Homo sapiens: one gene and its partner. The protein of the gene in region 1 interacts with the protein of each later gene in a pairwise test. Each region holds a gene or a part of one and is shown in the gene's direction. Other genes may lie near its edges.

Evidence for each region.
Region 2: the proteins of THAP4 (region 1) and DGAT2L6 interact in binary tests that used the Homo sapiens proteins (3 or more experiments, as listed by UniProt).

What each region holds. Positions count from the first base shown.
Region 1 is NC_000002.12:241,584,598-241,592,158, reverse strand, and holds part of THAP4 (peroxynitrite isomerase THAP4), read left to right. Parts: intron 1-7,433; coding exon 7,434-7,553; 3' UTR 7,554-7,561. UniProt on the Homo sapiens protein: Heme-binding protein able to scavenge peroxynitrite and to protect free L-tyrosine against peroxynitrite-mediated nitration, by acting as a peroxynitrite isomerase that converts peroxynitrite to nitrate.
Region 2 is NC_000023.11:70,194,124-70,201,684, forward strand, and holds part of DGAT2L6 (diacylglycerol O-acyltransferase 2-like protein 6), read left to right. Parts: intron 1-5,147; coding exon 5,148-5,258; intron 5,259-5,688; coding exon 5,689-5,759; intron 5,760-6,131; coding exon 6,132-6,336; intron 6,337-7,561. UniProt on the Homo sapiens protein: Diglyceride acyltransferase that uses fatty acyl-CoA as substrate. Particularly active with oleate as a substrate. Has no wax synthase activity to produce wax esters.

The sequences.
Region 1 (7,561 bases):
GTGGGTGGCTCTGGACCTAGCTTTGCAGCCTGGGCTGCCACCGGTGACCTGCGAGCTTGAGCATCTTTTCACGTCGTTGCTGGGTCATCCTCCAGCGAGGTGCCTGTTCAGGTCTGGTGACCATTTCCACTGTGCCTTTTCTGGCTGACATGTCAGAGTTCTTTATATGATTTGAATAAAGCTCTGTTAGCTAAATGTGTTGCAAATAGCTTTTTCGGTCTGTGATTATCTTTTGAGTTTTACAAATTGTTTTTGAAGAACAGAGGTTCTGGATTTTATGTGGTTCAGTTTGCCAATCTCTTCCTTTATGGATTCTGTTTTTAATGTCTTAGTTAAGCAGTCTTTCCTCACTAACAGGTCAAAATATGTATTCTGAATTTTTCTGGAAGCTTCACAGTTCAACCTAAAATCTTTCCTTTAGGTCATTAATCCACCTGGGGCTGAGTTGTGTGTATAGTGTGAAGTGCTGTCCCCTCTCCTTGTTCTCAGATGAGGGCCAGCTACCCTGCACCCTGCATGAAGAGCCCGGCCCCCCTGTTCACCCATGCAACTGCCCCCTGAGCCCCTCAGTATCCTTCATCAGGGGTCTGCTTCTCACCCTCTCTCTGGTTCCAGGTGGTCTGTTTGTCAGTCCCTGTGCCAATACCACACTGTCTTCATTATCATGGCTTCTACTTTTTAAAAATCACCTCTATTGAGGTATACTTTATATGGAATAAATGCATACACTTCAAGTGTGCAGTTTGATACATTTGGACAAGCATATATAATCTTGTAACGCTGCGCCAGTCAAGACTGAGAACAGTCCCAGCACCCTAGAAAGTCCCCGTGCTCCACAGGCAACCCCCGCTGCCCTCTCAAGCCCCCGGCCTGGTTTCTGCCACTGTAGACCGAGCAGCTCTGAGTGTCCTAGTGCCCATGATCATCAGCCGAGCAGTTCTGAGTGTCCTAGTGCCCATCATCATCAGCCGAGCAGCTCTGAGTGTCCTAGTGCCCATCATCGTCAGCCGGGCAGTTCTGAGTGTCCTAGTGCCCATCATCGTCAGCCTGGCAGTTCTGTCTGTCCTAGTGCCCATCATCATCAGCCGAGCAGCTCTGAGTGTCCTAGTGCCCATCATCGTCAGCCGGGCAGTTCTGTGTGTCCTAGTGCCCATTATTGTCAGCCGAGCAGCTCTGAGTGTCCTAGTGCCCATCATCGTCAGCCGAGCAGCTCTGTGTGTCCTAGTGCCCATCATCGTCAGCCGGGCAGTTCTGTGTGTCCTAGTGCCCATCATCGTCAGCCGGGCAGTTCTGTGTGTCCTAGTGCCCATTATCGTCAGCCGGGCAGCTCTGCGTGTCCTAGTGCCCATTATCATCAGCCGAGCAGCTCTGAGTGTCCTAGTGCCCCTCATCATCAGCCGGGCAGTTCTGAGTGTCCTAGTGCCCATGATCATCAGCCAAGCAGTTCTGTGTGTCCTAGTGCCCATCATCATCAGCCGAGCAGCTCTGAGTGTCCTAGTGCCCATCATCGTCAGCCGGGCAGCTCTGCGTGTCCTAGTGCCCATCATCATCAGCCGAGCAGCTCTGAGTGTCCTAGTGCCCCTCATCATCAGCCGGGCAGTTCTGAGTGTCCTAGTGCCCATCATCAGCCGAGCAGCTCTGTGTGTCCTAGTGCCCATTATCATCAGCCGAGCAGCTCTGAGTGTCCTAGTGCCCATTATCATCAGCCGAGCAGCTCTGCGTGTCCTAGTGCCCATTATCATCAGCCGAGCAGCTCTGAGTGTCCTAGTGCCCCTCATCATCAGCCGGGCAGTTCTGAGTGTCCTAGTGCCCATCATCATCAGCCGGGCAGCTCTGAGTGTCCTAGTGCCCCTCATCATCAGCCGGGCAGCTCTGAGTGTCCTAGTGCCCATTATCATCAGCCGAGCAGCTCTGAGTGTCCTAGTGCCCATTATCATCAGCCGAGCAGCTCTGTGTGTCCTAGTGCCCATTATCATCAGCCGGGCAGCTGAGTGTCCTAGTGCCCATTATCATCAGCCGAGCAGCTCTGAGTGTCCTAGTGCCCATCATCGTCAGCCGAGCAGCTCTGCGTGTCCTAGTGCCCATCATCGTCAGCCGAGCAGCTCTGCGTGTCCTAGTGCCCGTCATCGTCAGCCGAGCAGCTCTGAGTGTCCTAGTGCCCATCATCGTCAGCCGAGCAGCTCTGAGTGTCCTAGTGCCCATCATTATCATCAGTGGAGTCACAGCACACAACTCATTTGTTTCCGGTCTCCTTTCCTCACTGAAACGCTCTCAAGATTCAGCAGTTCTGCTGCATGTGCCACGTCTGCTTGTTGCTGTGTGGTGGTCCACCAGTGAGCTTGTCAGTTTTGTTTATCCTTTCTGTTGATGGATGTTTATTTTATTTGTTTCCAGTTCCGGGCTATTAGGAATAAAGCTGTAAGCATGTGTAGACCTAACTTTGTGTGGACACATGTTTTTTTTCCTCTTGGGTGCATACCTGGGATTGGAACTGCTGGGTTCTGTGGTAAGCACCAATCTCTTCCAGAGTGGCTGTCCCCCTTGACACCCCAGCAAGGTTGTCCCACAGCCTCGCCAAGGGTTGGCCTTTGAGTTTTATCCTGGCCACTACAGGGTGGTATTTTATTGTGATGTTAATTTGCACTTCCCTGCTGAGTAACGATGCTGCTCATCTTTTTGTTGTACTTATTTGCCACTTGTATTTCTTGTTTTGTGAAATGAACATTCAGATTTTTTGCCCATTTGTTTAAGTGTTTGTGTTATTCCTGAGTTGTAAGAGCCTGTTGTTTGTTCTGGGTATAAGTCCTTTATCAGGTGTACTTGCCAACACGATATTCCTATCCTGTGCCTTGCCTTTCTGTTTCCTAGACAGTACCATTTGAAGAACCAAATGTTGTTTTTTTTGGTGGGGGTGGGGGGTTTCTTTTCTTTTTCTTTTTTTTTTTTGAGACATTGTTTGCTCTCGTTGCCCAGGCTGGAATGCAATGGCCTGATCTCAGCTCACTGCAACCTCTACCTCCCAGATTCAAGCGATTATCCTCTCTCAGCCTCCCAAGTAGCTCGGATTACAGGCTCCCACCACCATGGCCGGCTAATTTTTTGTATTTTTAGTAAAGACGGGGTTTCACCATGTTGGCCAGGCCGGTCTCGACCTGACGTCAGGTGATCCACCCTCGTTGGTCTCCCAAAGCGCTGAGATGACAGGCGTGAGCCACCATGCGCAGTCTAGAACCAAATGTTTTAATTCTGTTACCATTTTTTTTCTCTAGTCAGTGCTTTTTGTGTCCTGTCTTAAAATTTTTCACCTAGCCCAGGCAGCAAAGATTTTCACCTGCATTTTCTTCAAGAAGTTTTATAGTTTTAAGATATATGCTATTTGGAATTGCTATTTCTAGATGGTATGAGGTAGTAGTCACGTTTTTTCCATTTTTCCTCATACAGATACCTCGTTTCCAGCACCATTTGTTGAAAAGAGAACCCTTAATTTATTAAAGTATGCAGTGCTTTTGTCGAAAATCAACTCACTTTGTGTGTGTGGTTCTTCCCCAGGACTCTCTCTTCTGTCCCACTCTTCTCTGTTTCGGTCTTTATACTGTTACCATGCTGTCTTGATCATTGTAGCTTTATATTGAATCAGGTGATAGAAGTTACCCAACTTTTCTTCTTTTTCTTTTTTCCAAAATTGTTTTGGCTATCCTAGGACCCTTTGCATTTCCTTATGAATTTCAGAATCAGCTTGTCAGTTTCTAGAAACATTTTCATTGGAACTACTTGAATTTCTAAATTAATTTGGGAAGAAGTGCCATCTTAGGCAAACTGAGTCCTCCAATCCAGTGCCATGGTAAGGTGCTCCATTTATTTAGATCAGTCTCATCCTATATTTTCTTGTAGTTTTCAACGTATTGGTTTTGCACACATTTTGTTAAATTTATTCCTACATATTTTGTGGTTTGGGATGCTATTATAAATGATTTTTTAATTTTCCACTTATTTGTTGCAAGTATATAGAAGTACAATTAGCTGTTGTATATTGATCTCGTATCATGTGACTTTGTTAAATTCATTCATTTCTGTAGTTTGTTTCTTTATTTTTCTTCTTTTCCTTCCCTCCCTCCCTCCCTCCCTTCCTTCCTTCCTTCTTTTCTCTCCTTTTTACTTTTTTCTTTCAATAAAAACAAGGTATTCTGTGTTGCCCAGGCTGGAGTAGAGTGGCTATTCTCTAGTGATTTTTTTCTTTTTTTTTGAGATGGAGTTTCTCTCTTGTTGCCCAGGCTGGAGTGCAGTGGCGCAATCTTGGCTCACTGCAACCCCCACCTCGCCAGTTCAAGTGATTCTCCTGTCTCAGCCTCCCGAGTAGCTGGGATTAAAGGCATGTGCCACCACACCCGGCTAATTTTGTAGTGATTTTTTTTTTCTTTGAACAGGGTTATTTAGAGATATGTTACTTATTTTCCAAATAATTGAGAATTTTTTAAATAGATTCTATTGCTCAGGATTTTTCATTCAATTCTATAAGGCCCAGACAACATACCCTCTAATATTTTAGTCTGTTAAAAAATGTTGGAGACTTATTTTACGCCCCAGTATATGGCCTAACTTCATGAATATTTCATGTACACTTAACGAATGTAGCATTCAATAGTTATAAAAGTCCCCTCCACAAGCTGGAAACCCTGGGATGCCAGTGTCATGGCTCAGTCCAAGTCCAAAGGCTTCAGAACCAGGGAAGTCAGTGGTGTCACTCTTGGTCCTGGGCCAAAGGTCTCAGAGCCCTGAGGAGAGAGGAGGTGCTGGTGACATCTGGGAGTCCAAAGGTCGGGGGGCCTGGAGGTGTCCAAGGACGGGGGAGGAAGAGTGTATCCCAGCTCCAGCAAACAGATGGACATATTCGCCTTATCTTTGTTTTTATTTTATCTGGGCCCCCAGCCTATTAGATGGTGCCCACCCTCATGGAGGGTAGATCTTCCTCACCTGGTCAGTCACCTCTGGAAACATCTTCTCAGACATACTCAAAATAATCCTTTACCGGGTTTCTAGGTGTTCCTTAATCGGTCACCTTTGACCTTTGACACCTAAAATTAACCATGACACCCACACCCACCTCTGGCTGCTTTCAAGTTTCTATTTTCTTGCCTTTGATTATCAGCCAAAGTTTTGCTGTGATATAATTAGAATTTGTGGCTTGATATATTTTGTTAGGCTCAGAAAATTGGCCATGATCTTTTCAAATATTGCTTGTGTTCTGTTGTCTTTCCTATCTTCTTCTGGGTCTCTGGTTACACATGTGTTCAGTCTTTTGCAATTTTCAATGTGTCCCTTATGCTTTCATCCATATTTTCCATTATTCTCTAAGCTTCAATGTGGATATTTCCTACTGATCATTTTCCATTTTACTAATCCTTTCTTCATCTGTGTCTAATTTGTCTATTTCATTATTGGGGCCTTAATTTGAGTTATTATGTTTTTCAGTTGTAGAATTTATATTTTAATCTTTTTGATAAATTCTGATTACCTGCAGAAATTCTCCATATTGTCTTCTAATAACTCCAGTATTGGTATCCCCTGGGTGAGGGTGGGGGAGGTGTCTATTTCCTGTTTTTTCTTTTGATCTTATCTCCTAGTAACCTAAGGAGTTTTTCTTTTTTTCTTGGATTCTAGACAATATGTGTGAAAAATTGTAGAGATGACTTGAGGCTTCCTTTGATGTTATCCTCACCAAAGAGCAGTTCTGTGCTTCTGCCTGTTGGTCAAGGATGGACAGCTCGTGTTCAGTAGAGGCTGAGCTGGTTTGAAACCGGACTTCCCAGCCTGTTTCTGGTTAACTCTTACTCCTGGGATGGGACCCTTCAGGGACCCCACCCAAAGCTGGGGTGCTTTTTTTTTTTTTTTTTTTTTTCCTCTTCAGATGGAGTCTCGCTCTGTTGCTCAGGCTGGAGTGCAGTGGCGCGATCTTGGCTCACTGCAAGCTCCGCCTCCTGGGTTCACGCCATTCTCCTGCCTCAGCCTCCTGAGTAGCTGGGACTACAGGCACCCGCCACCACACCCGGCTAATTTTTTTTGTATTTTTAGTAGAGACGGGGTTTCACCCTGTTAGCCAGGATGGTCTCGATCTCCTTACCTCGTGATCCGCCCGCCTCGGCCTCCCAAAGTGCTGGGATTACAGGCGTGAACCACCGTGCCCAACCTCAGGGTGCTTTTTTTCTTTCTTTTTCTTTTTCTTTTTTTTTTCTTTTTTTTTTTTTTTTTGAGAAGGAGTCTTGCTCTGTCACCCAGGCTGAAGTGCAGTGGCATGATCTCGGCTCACTGCAACCTCCACCTCTTGGGTTCAAGCAATTCTGCTGCCTCAACTTCCCGAGTAGCTGGGACTACATGTGCATACCACCATGCCCGGCTGCGCCTCTCCTCCTAGATGGACACTGAATTCCAGTGTTTGTCCCTCCAGCTCCATGAGTCTGAGAAGGCCCCACTTAGCTTCTCAGCCTCTTAGCTACCACATCCCTCTCAGCCTCCACCCCTTGAACCCCTTGACTTCCGGGCAGCAAAAGCATCGGGGCCAGTTGCTCCAAATTGGGTCTCACCTCCACACTTCCTTCTCTTTGGGGTGCTGGTCCTCGCTGACTTGGTGGTTCTCTGACACCTTTAAAGAAACTTCTTAAAACCTGGGTTGTTATCTGCAGGAGGGTTGGTCAGTTACAGAGTAGTCAGCCATGGCCATAAGCAGAACTCCGTTTCATCCACTTCTGGTGCCCCCCACCCCACATGACCCCCCACACATCTGGGGCACTAGAGAGATAGTGCCCATCAGAGAATTGTCTTTTGACAGTGGTCACTCTCACAATTTGCCGGCAAACATTCTGGGCATATAGGGCTGACTCATTCGGGACTTAGCTGCCATAGGCTTGGATTCTTGTTGGAAACAGCTGCTATAATTTATTCTGATGAATTACTGTTCCAAAGATGGTATTTCTGAGCTTTCCAAGAACACACTGGACATCAGTTCTAGTTACAGTGAAAGTGGGAGGCAGTGGAGAAGGGAAGCACTGGAAGCTCAGCGCTTGTCTGATCAGGTATATGATTTGTAGAGACCAAAAAAAGGTGACTTCTCCCATCCAAGTACTAACCAGGCCCGACCCTCCTTAGCTTCCGAGGTCAGACGAGATCAGGTGCGTTCAGGGTGGTATGGCCGTCGACAAAAAAGGTGACTTCTAAATAAACAATCCCTGTGTTCCCCTGGTGGTCTTCTGGAGGCAGCTGAAGGGCACCTGGATTGTGACATGCCCAGGGGCCCTGGGCTGTGTGTCTACCCTCCTCTGGCAGGGCCACTGCCTGGCTCACAGCCCGTGATGAGTGTGTGGCATGCAGTGGGCGCACAGGCATTGATTGAATCTTTTGAAGATAAAACTAAGCTATCTTTGTTCCATTCTCCTGCTCAGATCACCCGGAAGTTCAGGCTGAATTCTGAAGGCAAACTTGAGCAGACGGTCTCCATGGCAACCACGACACAGCCAATGACTCAGCATCTTCACGTCACCTACAAGAAGGTGACCCCGTAAACCTAGAG
Region 2 (7,561 bases), on another chromosome or scaffold:
GAAGGAAAACAATTCAATTTACAATATCACTAAAAGGAATAAAATACTTAGGAATAAATTTAACCTAGGAGGTGAGAGATCTGTATACCAAAAACTGTAAGACATTGAAAAAAATCGAAGAAGCCACAAATAAGTTGAAAGATATCCTGTGTTCATGGACTGGAAAAATTAACATTATTAACATGTCTATACTACTCAAAGTGAGCTATAGATCCAATACAATCCCTATGAAAATTCCAATGACATTTTTAAAAGAAACATAAAAAAATCCTAAAATTTGTATGAGACAACAAAAGACCCTGAATAGCCAAAGTAATCTTGAGAAAGAAAAACAAAGCTAGAGGCATCACACTTCCTGATTTCAAACTATATTACAAAGCCATAGTAATCAAAACACTATGGTACTGACATAAAAACAGACACAGAAACCAATGAAATAAGATAGATAGCCCAGAAATAATCCCATGCATTTATAGTCAACTAATCTTTGAAATGGGTCCCAAGAATACACAATGGGAAAAGGATAGTTTCTTCAATAAATGGTGTTGAACTAGACATCCTCATGCAAAATAATGAAACTAGACTCTTACCTTATGACATACACAAACATTAACTCAAAATGGATTAAAGACTTAAATGTAAGACCTGAAATCACTAAACTCCTAAAAGAAAATATAGGGAAAAAGCTCCTTGACATTGGCCTTGACAATGATTTTTTGGATATGACAACAAAAGCACAGGCAACAAAAGCAAAAATAAACAAGCAGGAGTACCTCAAACTAAAAATCTTCTGCCTAGCCAAGGAAACAATCAACAAAATGAAAAGGCAACCCACAGAATGGAAGAAAATATTTGCAAACCATATCTCTTATAAGGGGTTAATCTCTAAAATATATAAAGAACTCATACCACTCAATAGAAAAAAATAAAATAACATAAACTTTTTAATAGGCAAAGGACTTGAATAGACATTTTTCCAAAGAAAACATACAAATAGCCAAAGGGTATATGAAAAGGGGCTCAACATTATTAGTCATCAGGGAGCTGCAAATCAAAACCACAGTGAGATATCACCTTACACCTGTTAGGATAGCTATTATCAAAAAGACAAATGGTAAGTTTTGGTGAGGATATAGATAAAAGGGAATCTTTGTACACTGTTGGTAGGTATGTAAATTGTTACAACCAGTATGGAAAATAGTGGGGAGTTTCCAACAGTAATGAAATTAGTGTCTTGAAGAAATATCTGCACCCCCATGTTCACTGCAGTATTATTAGTAATAGCCAAGACGTGGGATCGACCTAAGTGTCCACTGGCAGATGAATGAATAAAGAAAGTGTCACACACACACACACACACACACGAATATTATTCAGCCATAAAAAGGAGATCCTGCCATTTGCAATAACATGGATGAACCAGGAGGATACTATGCTAAGTGAAATAAGCTAGACACAGAAAGAAAAATACCATATGATCTCATTAGAGCTGGATGTGGTGTCACATGTTTGTAATCCTAGCTACTCAGGAGGCTGAGGTGGGAGCATCACTTCAGCTCAGGAATTTGAGACCAGCTTGGGCAGCACAGAGAGAACCTGTCTCTAAATATATATATTTGTAAATAAATGTAAATTAAATTCATAGAAGCAGAGAATAGAATGGTGGCTGCCAGGAGCTGGGGCAGAGGGAAAATAAGGAAAAATTTGTCAAAGGGCACAAAATTTCAGTTACAAAAAGAATAATTTCTGGGAATCTAAAGTATAGCAGCATTAATAATACTGTATTATATGCTTGAAATTTGCTGAGTGGATCTTAAGTATCCTCACCTCTAGCCACAAACACACACAAAGGGTAACTATGTATGGTGGTGAATGTATTGATTAATTTGATTGTTGTAATCATCACACAATGTATACCTGTCTCAAATCATCACATTGTGCACATTGAATATACACCATTTTTATTTGTAAATTATACCTCCATAAAACTGGTAAAAATGAACTTGAAGTGTATTGTAGATCTAAATGTAAAAAAAGAAAACTGTAAAATGTTTAGTAGAAAACACAGGGGAGGTCAGGGGCAGTGGCTCACACCTGTAATCCCAGCACTTTGGGAGGCTAAGGCAGGAGGACCACTTGAGACCTGGAGTTTGAAACTAGCCAGGGCAACATAGCAAGACCCTGTCTCTACAAAAAAATACAAAATAAATTGGCTGGGTGTGGTGGCATGCTCCTGTAGTCCCAGCCACTCTGGAGGCTGAAGTGGGGGGATCGCTTGAGCCCAGGAAGCGGAGGTTGCAGTGAGTTGAGCCGAGATCACGCCATGGAACGCCAGTCTGGGTGACAGAACCAGATCCTGTCTCAAAAAAAAAAAAAAAAGAAAGAAAAAAGAAAAAAAAAGAAAAAAGAAAGAAAGAAAAGAAAAGAAAATATAGGGGAAAAATCTTCATGACATGAGGTTAGACAAAGAGTTCTTTCAGTTTGACACCAAAAGCACAATCTATAAAAGAAAAAAAATTAATAAGTTGGGCTTCATCAATATTAAAAGCTTTTGCTGTAAAAAGGACCCTGTTAACAAGAATGAAAAGATAGACACAGATTAGGAGAAAATGTTTGCAAATCACATATCAGACAAAAAAACTTATATCCAAAATGCATAAAGAACTACCGAAAGTCAACAGTAAGAAAACAACCCAATTGAAAAATGGGCAAAAGATTTGAATGGACACTTCACCAAAGAGGATATACAGAAAGCAGACAAGCACATGAAAAGCTGTTACGCATCACTAGCTATTGGAGAAATGCAAGTTAAAATTATGATGAGCTACCAATGCGCATATATTAGTTTTTTTTTCTTCTTTTTTTTTCTTTTCTTTTCCCCCAGTGCACATATATTAGAATGGCTTGGCCATCTTCACTACAAACTAAATTAGGAGCCTACCTATGTGAACTTCCTCTTTGATAACCCTCTCCAAGACGCCTCACTTGAACGTGACAAGAGAAATTGGAACCATCTTCTGGTGTCAAGGCCATAATACCTAAGGGAGTGTCACACATACATAAATGCTTGTTCTTCATCATTCCTTCTTCAGATACCCTTGCTTTATGTCACGGAACTCTTTTTACATGAGACTTAGCTCTTCCACATTTGGCTTCTATTTCTCCTATATCTTTAAATTCCACTTTTGTTACCGTGCACGACACTGATGACACTCGGGCTGGGTCTGGAAGCCTTGCTCTGAAAAAAACGTTCCTCGTCTCCTGCCGGGTCATATCTGCAGTTCCAATAGGTTCCACAAGGGGGATGGTGTTACCCAGGTAAGGGCTCTTAGACCGCCTTTAGGACTGGTGGATGAATGAATCAGATAAAAGGCACACAACTAATCCGTCTATGCTTTTAAAATAACATCACATTTAAATAACACTATACATGCTGACTAAATAGTAATTATCAAGTTTACTACTGAAAAGAGAAAACATTTGCTTATTTCGTTTTCAATTGGTCTACAGATATTTGTTGAACACCTACTGTGTGCCAAGCTCTCTTCTAAATACTGGGGAAACAAACAAAATTTATTTGAAACAAAATATAAAAGAAATGATACACTTAGGCTAACTTTAATTAGTGATTATTCTTATTTAACTTTATCTGAATTTCCTTCTGAAGCTTAACTGGCAAATTTACTCTCCTCTTTGATGAAGGGCATAGATAGCAAGGCTTTTTCTCCATGGCAGGCTTCCCATAAAACTCCTCCCACCACGCTTTCCTGTCTAATTTGAATGCTTACAACAACTATCTCGACCAGTGCTTATGAGGGCAATTCAGCCTATTACAAAGGTTTCTTCTACTCCATAACATGACTTTTTAAAGCACTGTCCACTCAGCCTTTTTCCTGCTATTTTCATTTATGTCCAAAATGCAAGAGACAAAGAACTGGTAGGTAACTCCCGAGTTTCTTCTTCCCTGAAACTTTTATCTGCTATGACATGGTACCTGGTCAAAGAAGTCATTCCCTTAGCTAAGTCTTTTTTTATTCACCATATGTATACTTAGCCCCTCTTTCTCATGAATGCAGATTTTTTAAATGGAATTCATTCGCACTGCTGTAACATGTATCGTGTTTGCAGTTACAGCCTGCTATGGCCATTTGCTAACACAGACTTCCCCTTCTGAACCTTTGTGATACTTTTGAATGGAACAAAATGAACACAGTAAAGTGTTTTTTGTTGTTGTTGTTTTGTTTTTTGTTTTTTTGGTTTTTTAGAGATACTGTCTTGCTTTGTTGCCCAGGCTGGTCTCAAACTCCTAGGTTCAAGCTGTCCTCTCACTTTGGCCTCCCAAATTGCTAAGATTATAGGAGTGAGCCACCGCACCTGGCCTAGTAGGGCAGTTTTGTTGTTGTTGTTGTTGTTTGTTTTGTTTTGTTTTGTTTTTTCAAGACGGAGTCTTGCTCTGTTGCCCAGGCTGGAGTGCAATGGCACGATCTCAGCTCACTGCAACCTCCACCTCCTGGGTTCAAGCGATTCTCCTGCCTCCACCTCCCGAGTAGCACTCCAATCATGTGCCACCATGCCCGGCTAATTTTTTGTATCTTTAGTAGAGATGGGGTTTCACCGTGTTAGCCAGGATGGTCTCGATCTCCTGACCTCGTGATCTGCCTGCCTCGGCCTCCCAAAGTGGAGTGGTTTTTAATCCGTGTTTACTTTTCAGCATCAAACAGCCTGTACACTGCGGGTAACCTCCCTGCTGGAATATGCAGACTTATCAGTTCAGCACAGGAAAGAGGGTCAAGCTTTTAGAAAGAATTTCCAGAGGTCCCAGAATGGGGATTCAGCTACCAGCCCAATGTGCTCTTCTTCCCATTCACCAAGCCGTGCTGTCCTTTGACCTCAACTTCATGGTTCTGCTCTTTCTTCAATTGAGAGTTTGGCCATCAAGGAGACCCAGATCCAGGGGCTTCAGAGGCCTGCCTAGACCACAGCAGAGACAAATGGAGGGCGAGGGGTTGGGGAAGAGGGGAGAAGGAGAGAAGAGTCCCACATCAGCCTAGCCCTGCTCCTGTAGTGTAGAGCAGAGGCCGGGGTTATGAGAAGTATACTAAAACTTGAAGGGAACTGAAAGGCTTGAACCCTTTGTGTCTCCCCAGGAGCTATTCCCATTCTCCTTATACCCTACTTTCTGTTATTCAGTAAGTTCTGGCCCTTGGCTGTGCTCTCCTTAGCCTGGCTCACCTATGATTGGAACACCCACAGTCAAGGTAAGAGACAGGGGCACAATGGTGGTCCTGTTTGGGCCAAGAATGGAAGGACAGGGAGAGGGAGGTGGAGGGAGAGGGGGAGAACCAAGGGTAGGGGAGAGGGGAAGGAAGGGGAGGGAGAAGGGAGAGCAAAGCTCAGCAGGGACAGAGGTCTCTACCAGGTAGCTCAGGAAGAATTATGAGGTTGAGGTCTCTGGGCAGGTGCCCCCAGCTTCAGACTATTTTCCTGTCACCTTTCTGGTCGGCTCTAGAGGAGCAGGGGCTTCCTATGTCTTGGGGATTGGATTCAGGGACAGTACTTACAGTTCTGAGGTGTCAGAAGGAGGCCCCTCACGTGACCTGAGGACTGCAGGCAGAACTCTCCTCCTCTGGGAGAGGTAGAGGGACTGCAATGCCCTGTGTACTCTTCCCTTCCCTTCTGTACCCACAGGTGGCAGGCGTTCAGCTTGGGTACGAAACTGGACCCTATGGAAGTATTTCCGAAATTACTTCCCAGTAAAGGTGACCACTCTTCCTCGGGGTGCCCTCAGTCCCTGTTGCCCAGACCCTTGCTCCCTACTCAGCTCCATGTTTTCAGAGGCTTTGGTGGTCAGCAGCGAAGGTCAAGGCCCCGAGTCATAATGCAAAGCAAGGGCCCAAGATGGATGGGCAGGTGGGGAAACAGGTGGATGGCAGCCTTTCCTTCACTGGCAAACCCAGGTCAGCCTCTCTGACCATCGTGAGCCCTGGCAATCCTATGACAATGATGACAACCTAGTGAACAGGGATTTGGGGCTCCCAGAGGGAAACATAGGCTACCTGCTGGGATTTTAGTCCACACGTGGTTTCTTCCTTCTTTGTAGCCAATGCTCTGACTCAATTTCCCTCTAACAGCTGGTGAAGACTCATGATCTTTCTCCCAAACACAACTACATCATTGCCAATCACCCCCATGGCATTCTCTCTTTTGGTGTCTTCATCAACTTTGCCACTGAGGCCACTGGCATTGCTCGGATTTTCCCATCCATCACTCCCTTTGTAGGGACCTTAGAAAGGATATTTTGGATCCCAATTGTGCGAGAATATGTGATGTCAATGGGTGAGTATAAGAAATAATTAATTCTATTTTTTTACCTACTTCAAAGGTGCAACCCCAATAAGTCCTGACAATCACTACCTGCTTGAAGAGTACATGATAGAAAATAAGTCCAGGACACCCTGGGCCCGTAACAGGAGTATGTGGCTAAGCATTAGTTTCTGTCCAAGATCTAGGGAGCAGGGTTTGATTGGGCAGCAGGGGAAATTATAGGCATTCATAGGAGTCACCAGGACTTTTTTCAGAGGGAGAACCAGAAGGCTGGAATTCAGGACCAATGCCAAAGTGCAAATCGAGGATGAAAGCCAAGAATTAAACACAAATCCAGGGAAAAGCAGGTGTGAATGGGATAGCTCAGGCGAACTTCACCAGGCTCTCTCTAGGATGTCAGCTGGCCTCTTTGGGCCGGTCATTTGTACACCATGGTGTCTTAAAAACATTTTGAAGTCTATCATACTAGCTAAAACCCTCCTGGTCCATGACTTTTATCTCCCTGGAACCCCTTCACACTTGCATAAAATACTAAGGGATAAAGGATAGGAGTTCATCAGAGTATCCAGAACAACTTCCCCATGCTCAGCTTCAAGTCAGGGCACTGTGACAAATGTCTCTCTCTCTGGACAAATAGTCATCCTTCTGGACACCAGAAAACAACTGAAGCCAAACATCCAAAGGTAAGATACATTTCTGTGGAGGGGCCAGGTGGGACCACTAGAGTCCCAGAGGATGCTTCTACTCTGCTCTGAGGTTAGCATGGCCCTGGAGCAGGAATACTTCTCAATGGCTAGAGTCTGGAGGCAATTTCTGCCATCACAGTAGACAATAGAAGGTGAGCGCAGGGCAAAGATGGGAGACAGAAGTGAGAAAGGCTAGATGATTGTTGTTAAACAACAGGGTGTCATTCACATTCCATTATTCATCTACGTTTCAGTTTGGCTTGGTCAGGCTCAGGGGTCTGCCTACTCTCCAGAAACCCCAGCCATTGGCTTCCCTTTGGCAGGTTACTCTTAGGGAGGAAGCAGGTTGGTGGTGGCTAGTCTCGATTACCCCTGGAGGAGAGAACTCTGGAGGATCTCCAGTGTTGTCAGGCTGGGCAGAGTGGAAGATGGCTGTGCTTCATGGGTAGAGAGGGATGAGGTGGGCTTAGATACTATTGATCTGAAATGCAGTAGGCTATGGATGGTAGGAGGCAGAGGAGCTCAGTATAGACCCAACTGCAGAAGCACAG